3 linked regions of the Homo sapiens genome follow. The protein of the gene in region 1 interacts with the protein of each later gene in a biochemical or structural test. Each region holds a gene or a part of one and is shown on either strand. Other genes may lie near its edges.

What was found.
Region 2: of the proteins of RNF123 (region 1) and NFKB1, one has a biochemical effect on the other in vitro, tested with the Homo sapiens proteins (one study listed by BioGRID).
Region 3: the proteins of RNF123 (region 1) and UBAC1 form a complex in vitro, tested with the Homo sapiens proteins (one study listed by BioGRID).

Annotation. Positions count from the first base shown.
Region 1 is NC_000003.12:49,699,512-49,703,159, reverse strand, and holds part of RNF123 (E3 ubiquitin-protein ligase RNF123), read right to left. Parts: coding exon 3,578-3,648; intron 3,493-3,577; coding exon 3,388-3,492; intron 2,934-3,387; coding exon 2,808-2,933; intron 2,689-2,807; coding exon 2,596-2,688; intron 2,525-2,595; coding exon 2,451-2,524; intron 1,670-2,450; coding exon 1,552-1,669; intron 1,350-1,551; coding exon 1,250-1,349; intron 1,078-1,249; coding exon 1,016-1,077; intron 827-1,015; coding exon 755-826; intron 528-754; coding exon 407-527; intron 1-406. UniProt on the Homo sapiens protein: Catalytic subunit of the KPC complex that acts as E3 ubiquitin-protein ligase. Promotes the ubiquitination and proteasome-mediated degradation of CDKN1B which is the cyclin-dependent kinase inhibitor at the G0-G1 transition of the cell cycle.
Region 2 is NC_000004.12:102,507,720-102,511,367, reverse strand, and holds part of NFKB1 (nuclear factor NF-kappa-B p105 subunit), read right to left. Parts: intron 489-3,648; exon of another isoform or gene 436-488; coding exon of another isoform or gene 419-435; intron 1-418.
Region 3 is NC_000009.12:135,944,280-135,947,927, forward strand, and holds part of UBAC1 (ubiquitin-associated domain-containing protein 1), read right to left. Parts: intron 3,627-3,648; coding exon 3,519-3,626; intron 2,093-3,518; coding exon 1,990-2,092; intron 1,719-1,989; coding exon 1,610-1,718; intron 972-1,609; coding exon 749-971; intron 1-748.

The sequences.
Region 1 (3,648 bases):
AGAGAGGCCCAGCCCCAGTCCTGTGGGATATCCCCCAATCCAGGGCAGGTAAGGCTCCCACTGACCCTTGGGGACTCAAACACAGGGCCCCCCAGCACCCACCCAAGGCAGCCCTATAAAGGACGCACAGAGAAATGGGGGGGCAAGGACGGAAGAAAAGAGCCCACAATGGTAGGAGCCCGTGGGACAATCAGAGCAAACACAGGATCGGCAGGCCTGCGGTGCAGGGCTCCTGCTGCCCCAGTGGAGAAGCCGCCTGTGGCTGGGTAGGACTCAACCAGGCAGGATGCCGGGGACAACTCCCCACAGCCCACAGCCTCAGCTCAGCACTCTGCACTAACATTAGGGGCTGCCCTACGCCTGGCTCTGTCCAGCCTCACTGACCTGGGACCCCGGTGCCACTCACCCTCACTGAAGGAAGCATGAGGATTGGAAGCCTTGTATTCATCCCAATAGTAGCGCAGGGCAGAGATCAGCCGGTGTAAGAAGCAGACCATGTACTCAGGGGGGCAGAGCATGGGCATGTTCTGTGGACACCAGGCATGAAACATGCATTGGTGCCAGTCCAGTGCCTTGCCCATTCCTCATCCAAGGCCCTGCCTGAGGGTCGAGGGTTAAGCAGGGAGGGAAAAGCAGCAGAGAAAAGCTTGGGGCTAGGCAGGGATGAGGCAGTCCGAGAAGTGCCAGGTGCTGAGGGCATGGCATGTGTAGTGCAGCCGGGGATCCACAGTGGGCTGGCCTGGAGGACACCTACCCCCCGGCCACTGGCGTTCTCCTGCAGAAACTTGCGAAACTTGGTCAGGAAGATATACCTAGAAGCTTCACCCTTTGAGAGAGGGAAAAGTGAGGCTGTGCTGAGCTGAGAATGCAGGCCCAGACTGGGCTGGCTCAGTGCTGCACCTTCCCCCAGCCCCTGCCATGGGAACCAAACCCAGTTCCCACCCTCTGGGTCTTAAGGCCCAGTGCAGCATCCCTCCCCACAGGGCCCCACCCAGGGCTCCTGGGAGTCACTCACCCCATTGTCATCTTTATTGTCCAGCAGCAGCTTCAGGATCTGGACCTGTAGTTCTTCCACCACTGGAGGTCAGGTGAGGAACATGGCCCTCAGGCTCCAGGAGATGGGGGGCAGGTTTGGGCCAGGGCTCCACCACCAGGGTTCCCCAAGTCCCACCTAGACATGGGCACCTCCAAGCACCCTCATGTGCACACACACACCTCCCACCCTACCCCGTGCCCAAGGCGGGCTGACCTTCGATGCGCTTCCTGAGCCGCTGACAGCCCCGTTCGTAGGCTCGCCGCCGCAGCCGCTCCTCTGCGGTCTCCTCCTTCATCTCCGTGCTCTCTTTGCCCTAGGCAGGGGTAGCAGGTGGAATACAGCAGGGTCACCTGGGACCTAGCCAGGCCTCCTTCACTCAGAACACCCACACTCCATCTCCAGGGCTTCAGGGACCAGGGCCAGTGAAAAGGCCTCATGCTAGATGCCCAGTGGCCAGATGCCCAGGCCAGGGGCCTTGCCATGACCTCTGCCCATCCCACTTGGGGTGCACTCACCTCCCTACTGGAGCAGTGGGGCCACCAGGTGGTGGGAATGAGCTCCTGCAGGCCGGCCTCCTCCACACGCAGGGGGCTCTTGATGTAAAAGAAGACGACGGAGCGGAGCACGTCGAAGCTGGCGGGTGTCAAGGCAGGGCTCTGCTTGCCAAAGGGCACTCTGCACACCCTCAAGAGTCCTTCCCCAGGAGCCCATCCCTGGATGTGCCTACCACAGCTCTCCCACCACCACAGGGGCATGTTGCTGCTATGTGTCTGACCCCCAGGGCATGCTCCCTGACAAAAAGCTGTGGTGGTTAAGCCCACCAGCTCCAGTACCCAGCAGGTGCACGATAAGGGCTTGTCACAGGAACAGATGACTGTGGGACAAGCTGGAGAGAGGGACTGGTGGCCTTTTCTCAGGCCCCAACTCTGACCTCTGTGTCTCCCAGCTTTGTGTCTGCCTCCTGGAGGCTGGAAGACCCCAGACCAAGAAAACGGCTACAAGCTGAGGCTTCCCAGCCAGGGGCTCAAAGCTATGCTCTCACTCACTCATGCAGTTCCCAACAATTCTGGGAAGCAGGAAGAGCTGCCTCCTTAAAGATCTTGCAGGAATCCCCACTGTGGAACATGAACAAAAGTGCTGGGCTGTGGCCGAAGAGGGCAGGCCCTGTGGCCCCTCCCACACCTCTGCGTAGCCCGAGTCTGCAGTCATTCAGAACCCCCTGGCTAGGCTGGCTGGCCAGGCTCAGTCCTTTGCTCTCTCGTCCTTGCTCTGTAGAGAAAATGCCACGTTGGGCAGCTCTGGTCCTCCTGATGCTCCCAGGGGACCCCTGGCCTGATGACACTCCCCTTCCTGGCCTCTGCTGAGTCCAGAGGGCACCCCATGTCTGGCCTGCCAGGCAGCAAGGAAAGGATACAGGACATTGCTAAGCAGAAACTTGCGGGACTTCTCATGCCTCAGGATGGCGATAGTGAGCCGCAGGTAATGGATCTGTGGAGAGGGGGCGTTCAGAGTGGACAGGCGAGTCCCAGGGGGCTCAGGGCAGGGGTAGGGGCTCCCACCTGTAGGCCCAGGTCTGGGACAATGGGTGAGAATCGGTACAGCCGAAGCAGAGACATCATCAACTGCTTGAGGCAATCTTGTACCTCGTAGTCCTGGGGGAAGAGATGCCAAGGCAGCCATGACTGGGGCCTTTTCCAAGATTCTCCCCGTATCTTCCCGACCCCAGTGAAGACTGACAGCCAGGCCTGAGGCCTGAGGTCAGGAGCCTCACCTCCATGAAGAGCCACAAGAGGTCCAGGACCTGGTGCACCACGGACTGTGCCTGTGTGGGTGTGCCCTTCTCCACGATGCCCAGCAAGAAGCTCATGAGCACAGCCTCCACCAGATACACCTTGCGCTGCACCAAGGCCAGGCACTGGTGAGGTGGTGGCCTTCCACTCTGGTCAAGGCACCCCTGCCCTGGCACATGGCCAAGGCACAAGCCTCAGGCACAGAGCCTTGAGCCACTCGAGCAACACCAAACATAGATGACCCCTTCCGGGGTCTGACTGAGGGACAAGAAGGCCATTGCCCCACGGCTCCTCTAAGGCTTGGCACACGCAGTTTCCTTGGCCTGGGATGTTATTATCCTTCAGTCTTCTTTCCAGGACATCCCCTGATGCCCTTGGTTGGCAATGTCCCTGTTTCCCTAGGGGACTGACTGAGGTCTGAGGGCCCTGGTCACATGGGGCCCTCGCCAGGTGATGCTGTGGGACCTCAGCACTGCAGCCCTCAGTGAGGGCACATCTACCACGGGCGTGTCTAGCATGGCCTGTCTCCTCCCCTCCCATGCCCCTCCCAATGCCGCTCACCAGAAGCGGTGCAAAGTGATGGAAGATGTGGGCCAGTGTGAGGAGGACGGTGGGCTGGCCCCGCAACCGCCACTTGGAGCTCTCCTTGTCCAACAGCCGCCCCTCCTGTGTGGAGGGGGAGGAGGGAGAAGTGTGAGGGGCAGGAGGCTGTGGAAGCCCCCCACCCCGCCTGGCCCAGACCCCAGCTCACCACAGGGTCCAGCTCCACACTCAGCACTGCCCGGAAGCAGCCCAGCAACCTCTGTGCCCGCACCAGGTCAG
Region 2 (3,648 bases), on another chromosome or scaffold:
TACATGATTTAAGCTCCATGAATTTCTGGATTTCTGTCTTGTTTGGCACTGTGTGCCTTGTCCTTAGAACTGTGTCTGGCACATAGAAAGGACTCAACATATATTCAAATAAATCACTGTTAAAGAAATAAAACCCTACTTATGTTAATCAGCTTGATTTAATCATTTCACAATGCATATGTATATCAAAACATCATCTTGTGTACCATAAACATATATAATTTCTGTCAACTGTACTATACTAAAGCTGGAGGTCAAAAAAAAGGAAGGAAAAAATAATAAAAAAATAAAAATCACACTATACGAAGATGGAAGAGCTTCTATAAACAAGCAATGCTTCCCCTACTCCACCCCTCCTCATCTCCAATCCTGCTTTTTAAAGGCTGACTTTTTAACACTCTTTTTCTTTTTAGTTTACCTGGTGGTTCTTTTCATATCTCCAAGATATGCTTCTGTCTTTTTTCTTGATGTAGGACGTTGTGTTCCTTCTAGGAAGGAACAGAGGAGGATTCAGCTCATACTACCACCACCTCCCCTTCTTCTCCCTCCAAATATAGTTATAATTAGTGAGACCTTGAATCAATCTAGCATTTAAATATTAAACTTTACATTCAATTTTTGTCTCAAGTTTTCCATAAATTTCTTTGGAGAAATATGAATGCGAGAGACTGAATAATAATGAAAAAATGCAACACCAGAAACATCTGGATTTGAGAAAGAACCTACACTGAGACCAAAAATTATAACTTATTATCGACAAAATGGGCAGTTCCTCATATTATCATACTGATAATCAAGAATTGGCTTGGTACTTACTCACATGCATTTTTCTTAAGTTGACCTATCTTGATATGGCAAGAAAATCTGAAGTCTTCCAATTAATACAATTACATCAAAGAAACACATAATTTTAGAGAGAGATGCTCATTTTGTCAAACCTCATTTTTTTTACAGAACAAAAATAAGACTCAGAGAAGTTAATTAACTTGCTCAGAGCCACACAGTTAATTGGCAGCACTGTCTCTTGATATCTTGTTCGGTATTTACTTATTCAGCAAACACACCAGGTGCTGTGCAAATAAAAAGTAAATAAGATGAACTCCTTGCCCTCAAGATGTTTCTTTTCTAGGACCCACAGGAATTCAGGAGAACACAGAATGGGGGCACATAACTCTTTATGGAAAGGGGAGGGAGAAAACAGAAAGGCAAGTGAGAGAAATGGTGATGCTCAAACCAGGCCTAAGGGTTTAGAAGTTAGCAGGATGGCTAGGAAAGAAAAGGCACTTCTCATACAGGGAGGGCATAAGCAAAGGCATTCAAAGTCAGAAACTGTGGATAGGAAACTGAAAGTCGGTGTGGAGGATTTGAGATTAGGGGATGGTTGGGGAACACCGGAGGGAGTAAGGGGGTGAGGTGTGCGAGAATCAGCTTGTGAAGACAACTGGGATTCACTGCAGAGACATGATCCGATTTACACTTTAGAAAGCTGACCATTATGCGAAATGAACGATGGGTTAGAAGCAGGAGACAATGCAAAAATAAAATCTAGAAATTCAACGAGGAAGGGATGGATTCTGGAGATGAGGAGGCTGCCTTGATAGAACTTGGTGACTGACTGAAGAAGAAAGCTGAATGTATAAGAAGGGCTTCTAGATTTCTGGCATGAGAAATCTACTGAATGGACCCTAACAGGCTAACAACCGCATTCCCTAATGTGCTGGGGATACCAATCTGTGCAAAGGGGTGGGGATCAAGGATGATGAGAAATTTAATATTGGCATATAGATGTGAAGATACTTAAGTGCCTCAGCAATAAAATCATTTCTGTAGCTTGCCTTGAATGACTGGACTCCTACAGTTCAACAGATACTCAGTAAATATAGCACAATTACTCCAAAAGTCATCTATTTCAACACAGGATTGAACTACCTCTCTAAGCAACTTGGATTGACTCCTATTTGGCTATTACAGAAGACTTTCTAAGAGAAATGGGATACTTCCCCACCCATCACAAAAAAAGAATTGTAACTGCAGGGTAAATGATTATGTAATGGTTTAAAATAGGAAATATTTTTAAAGTTTCTAAGGATTGCTTTTTAAATTTGGTTAAATGTCTTAAATGGGAAATCGAGTAAATATATAAAGAGACACCATAAAGACATTATCTCAAATTAACGCTATGATATGGTATGAGAGTGAGTAAATGCATTTGACTATTGTTGGACTGCTGTGCTTTTGATTTTAATTTCCCAGGTACTTATATTTGCTTGATCGCAACTGACTTCTAAAGTGTTTTTTCATAATGTGGTGAAAAGTCCATTCTTACCAGTTTAGCAAAAATATGATAATCCATTATGAAATGTCTGCCGAAAGGTTCTATCCAAGGGCAATCTCTCTTACTTCTTTCATTATGACCCTCCATGAGATGAGATATACAATTTATCTCATTGTATTTCTCAACCATGAGATATATGATTTGTCCTTTTATTTATAATTCTCATTCACTTTCTAGATTATTCTATCTTCACATTCAAGTTGATAACAAAGTTTAAGTCTTAGTTTTATAGAGGACTCTTCCCCCTAAATCTTTATGCTTTCATTATCCTTTGCTTTGACCAATCTTTCAAAAGACTCAGGTTTAAAATCACATACACATATACAAACGATGCTTAACCTATTCACCTTATCATGTATTAGCAGTATAATAAATGAATGCATTAAATGAATAGGGTAGAGAAATGGCTATATTTTTGGTTCATTTTAAGCCATCTCCTCTGAAAAGTAGTTCCCCAGGTTTTTTGCTTGGTTTGAAATTAGCAGTATGAACACACTAAAAATTTTTTTCCTATTTCCTAGATTGTATATTCAGTTTTCAGTTTTGATTTTACGTAAATCAATTGCTGATTTAAGTACTTTCCTGACTATCCAACTGAGCAAAAAATTAAGTGTAATTTAATTTTAATTCTTAACATTGCTTTCAACTTCTAATTTCCTCTACATAAATAGCCACCCACACATGCTTCTTCCATCATTCCACATCATCATCATTTTAATTTTATAAATCATGAAGGTTCTTGTATTATATGCAGATGCTATAAATTGTAAGGTATTCTCCTCTGGCCTCATTACCAAGTCCATACCCCATTTAAAAGAAAAAGACACTGAAGGTTATAGATCAAGTCTTAACAGTCAAACACCAATACATGTTTAAGCCTTACAAAATAAGCCTATACTTAAGAACTGGTAGACAAAGAGGTTCTTCAAATATCAATAAAACATGATTTGGGAATTTGTGTTAAAACATCCAAAAATAGTTATTTTCTCATTCCTAAAATTCTTGTCATGGAAGACATATTTTCTAAGACAATTAAGTAATCTATTTTCACTATTTAAATGAACTGCAGGCTTGGGCTTAGAACCAATAAATAGGTTGATTAGGGAGTCTGTCATCACTTTTATGTTTTCTTTTTTACATACTTGTTATATGGTAGAATTGACGTCTGGGATAAAGAGGGATAGGTGTGCCCTAACACTGAAATATGGTATAGTATTTTCAGTCCAAATGACATGATAAATAATAAAAATAATTTTTTGAAATAACTGCTTTTAACAAATAAAAGTCATTAAAAACAAATTGCTTTTTAAAAT
Region 3 (3,648 bases), on another chromosome or scaffold:
CAGGTGGATGTCTACAGCCTGGCCACATGGAACTCCATGGAAAACACGAGCTCCGCAGGTGAGGCCACAGCACAATGTCACACACCCCAAGGAAACGATCAGTGCCACACGAGACGACAGCATGCAGATGGAGCAGATCTGCCATCTGAGCATGTCGGAGACAGACAGAAACCTCCAAGGAGGAAGTAAAACCCGAATCAAAGAACAGGAGAGAGAAGGAAGAATGGGGAGATGAGGCGCGGGCGAGGAAGGTCCACACACACAGGCGCAGGGACCCTTCAGCCCTGCAGACTGTGCCATGGAGGCGGCTGGCAGCCTGAGCGGCCCCTCGCTCATGGACACCCCCGACGGCAAATGACCCTCCCGGTCTCTGGGCAGGGCCCCCACCCCGCAGAGAGGCTGCCGAACAGGGGGGGCTTGTGGATGAGTGGTCAGAAGGAACTGTAAAATATCAAGTTTTTCAAAAGGTGACGAATGTGGCAACACAGAGGAAACTGGGGCGCCTGGATTCAAGCCAGGATAACTTACAGGTGTGCTCAGAAACTCGGGCCACGGTCCCCAGGCCCACCGCCCCCAGGCTCGCCATTTCCCAGGCCCACCTGTAAACCCCTTCCCCAGCTTCTCTCTCTCCTGGGACAGGAGCCAGCTCAGCCCAAGGTCAGCCATGCAGCCCCAGCTTCCTTTCCATGGCGCCACCTCAAGGGAAGACACAGCGACTCTGCCTGGCGACAGGTCTAGTAACACATACCCGAGCATCAGCCCGAAACTCCCTTTTCCTCCGGATCTTCTTGAAGATTTCCGTCAGCTCATCTCTGGCCTCCTCATCGGTGGCGCTGGCTCCCGCGGCAGCCTCGGAGGCAGCTGCTGTGGCCCCCTCGGCCTCTGGGGGAGCTTGGCCAGGAAGAGGCGTGTCTATGGTCGGGTCTTCTGCGTGTTCAATTAGCCACTCCATGGCCTGAGGCACCGACATGCTGCAAGGCAAGAGACTCTTTCCAACATCCCCAGACTAACGGACCAGGGCCTTCGCCTCCTGTCCATTCCCAAGAAGAGCCTCTGCTATGGTAGTGACTTCTCCAGCATCAGCTGGTGACCCTTATAACAAGAACCTGAATGAACACAGGTGCGACGGAAGCGCTGGTCCTTGCCTCAGACTACCTTGAGACCCTGGGCAGAATCAGAAGCCCATGTCTAAGGAGAGGCAAGCGGACCCAGAGATATCTGCTGAGGGCTTAGATAGGGACCACAGGGGGAACTGCCCCCGGCTGCCCCTGGATCTCGGATTATTCATTTTAGATCTGAACACAGAAGCAGGGCAAGTAACTCACACGGGAATCCTGAGAAGACTGTTAGAGGCCGTGTCCCTGCTACGAACGGGATTCACCTTGAGTTCTCATACAACGGCCCAAAGAGAATTTACACAACGACTGTTCTGTCACATTCACCCCAAAAACACTTTGGAGGCACATATTTAAGGTACCTCTTCAAAACCCCACGTTAGAAATGATTCAGTCAAAGAGTTTAGGGTAGGAGGACGTCACCCACGGTGGGAGCCCCACAAAACCAGGCCCCAGGTGTCTCCGGCAAGGGAAGGAGGTGGCCCCCCACGCACTGGTTCAGCTGAAGGGCCTTGGTGGCTCTGTTCTCCGGAAAGCCCATCTCCGTGAGCTGCCGCAGGGCAGCCTCGTCCACACGCTCATCCTCGTCCTCGTCCAGCATTGCTGCAGGGAGACGACAGGGCCATGAGGGCTCCAGCCTCAGGTTCAGGGGCCTTATCTGAGCACAAACATTTGCAGCAATTATCTGTCTGAGCTCCACCTGCCCGCCCTCAGGCACATCAACAGGAGTTGCCGGTGAGGCAGGCCCCAGGCCCTCATCAGCGCTTCCATAAAGCACTGAGGTTCCGGTCAGTGGTCAGTGCGTGGAGCTGCAGACGCTCCCCAAGGCCGGCAGTGAACCGCCCTGGAATGCAGCATCGGGGTTGACTCATACCATTCGCCTTCTTAAACAATTCCACTGCATCTGGGTTCAGCGCTAACAGCTTCTGCGCCACCTCGATGAGAGACACCAGTATCTTCCGGAGTTCTGTCTGGAACTGTGGTGAAAAAAAAGGAGATCAATTCTCTAAATGTCCACCAAACCTACTTGGATCTATGACTTGCTCCCCTGTCCTAGAACTCTTGATTCTGAGAGTTGAGATGACATTGCTTTCTTGCAAGACAGCAGGATCAGCTGAGGGCAAGGCAGGGGATTGGCAGGGCCAAGAGCCTCCCTGCAGGTGGGACTGAAGCCAGTGGAAAGGGACAGGAACGCCTGGTGACGGTCACTCAGTGCTGGCCCGATACTCAGCCTGTGCCCTGTGAGGAAACCGTCGGCCCAGCTGGCGCAGGTGCAGGGCAAGCTGAAGACCCTCTCTGGCTTCACTGAAGAAAACAGAATCATCTGAGGCTCCACCCCCATGAGTCTGCCAGCCCCCAGTGGAGGCATGGCTGCCACACAGCGTCTGCGGCGGCCATCACTGTCCTCCCCAGGCAGGAGGAGCCGTGGGATGGACCGGAGATGCCCTCCAGAACAGCTCCTGGCTACAGGGCCTAGAGGTCAGGCGTCAGCTGTCCCTACTCTCACACAAGTGTGAGCCTTGGTGCGGACACCACACTAGAGAAATACCTCTGAGCCGGACACACACAGGATGGGAGACACACATGCTGGCTGCTGGGGAAAAGCCACCATGCCCTGGTCAGCACAGAACTCTCTGGAAGACACCCCAAGAGGTTCATTCCTAAAATGAAACAGGGCTTATAGCAGTGCCCTTAGGTTGGACTGGCATCAGATGAAGTTGGAAGCCAGCCGTCCTCCCACCCCGGCACAGCACGTGCCTGCCCTGCCTGCTGCGGCGTCCACGTGAGCACTGCAAACACTTTTCTTTTTTAACTTAGAATGTTCTGACCCAAAATAACTCACGGGTTCAGATTTGTGTGTTTTTTTTTTTCTTGAGACGGAGTTTCGCTCTTGCTGCCGAGGCTGGAGTACGATGATGCAATCTCGGCTTACTGCAACCTCCGCCTCCCGGGTTCAAGTGATTCTCCTGTCTCAGCCTCCTGAATAGCTGGGATTACAGGTGCCTGCCACTACGCCCGGCTAATTTTTGGTATTTTTAGTAGAGACGGAGTTTCATCATGTTGGCCAGGCTGGTCTCGAACTTCTGACCTCAGGTGATCCACCCGCTTCGGGTTCAGAATTCTATCTAAACGTTTTGCCAAACTCAGGGCCGGATTGACGTTTTCCCAGGGGTATCTATCTTTTCAATCCTGCCTTCAGATGGCTTTCCAACTCTTACTTGGAAATAATTTTTGATTTACAGAAAAAATGCAAAATAGTGCAGTCCTACAGACCCGCTCACCGGCTTCCCCAAATCCTCCCAGAGAATCTCCTCTTGCTGCCCCGCCCCGCAGGAACCCCCCCACAGCAATCCCCCACACGGGGACCCCATGCACCCGCCGCCGCTCTGGGCTGACACTCACGTCTCTCATGTTGGTCTGGACCGCGGCCCGGTCCATGTTGTAGGAGGGCAGGTTGGCGGTGGCCCGCAGTATGGCCTCTTTATCTGGAGCTTTCTGGTCTTGTTTTTTCTACACAGAAACGTAATCAGAA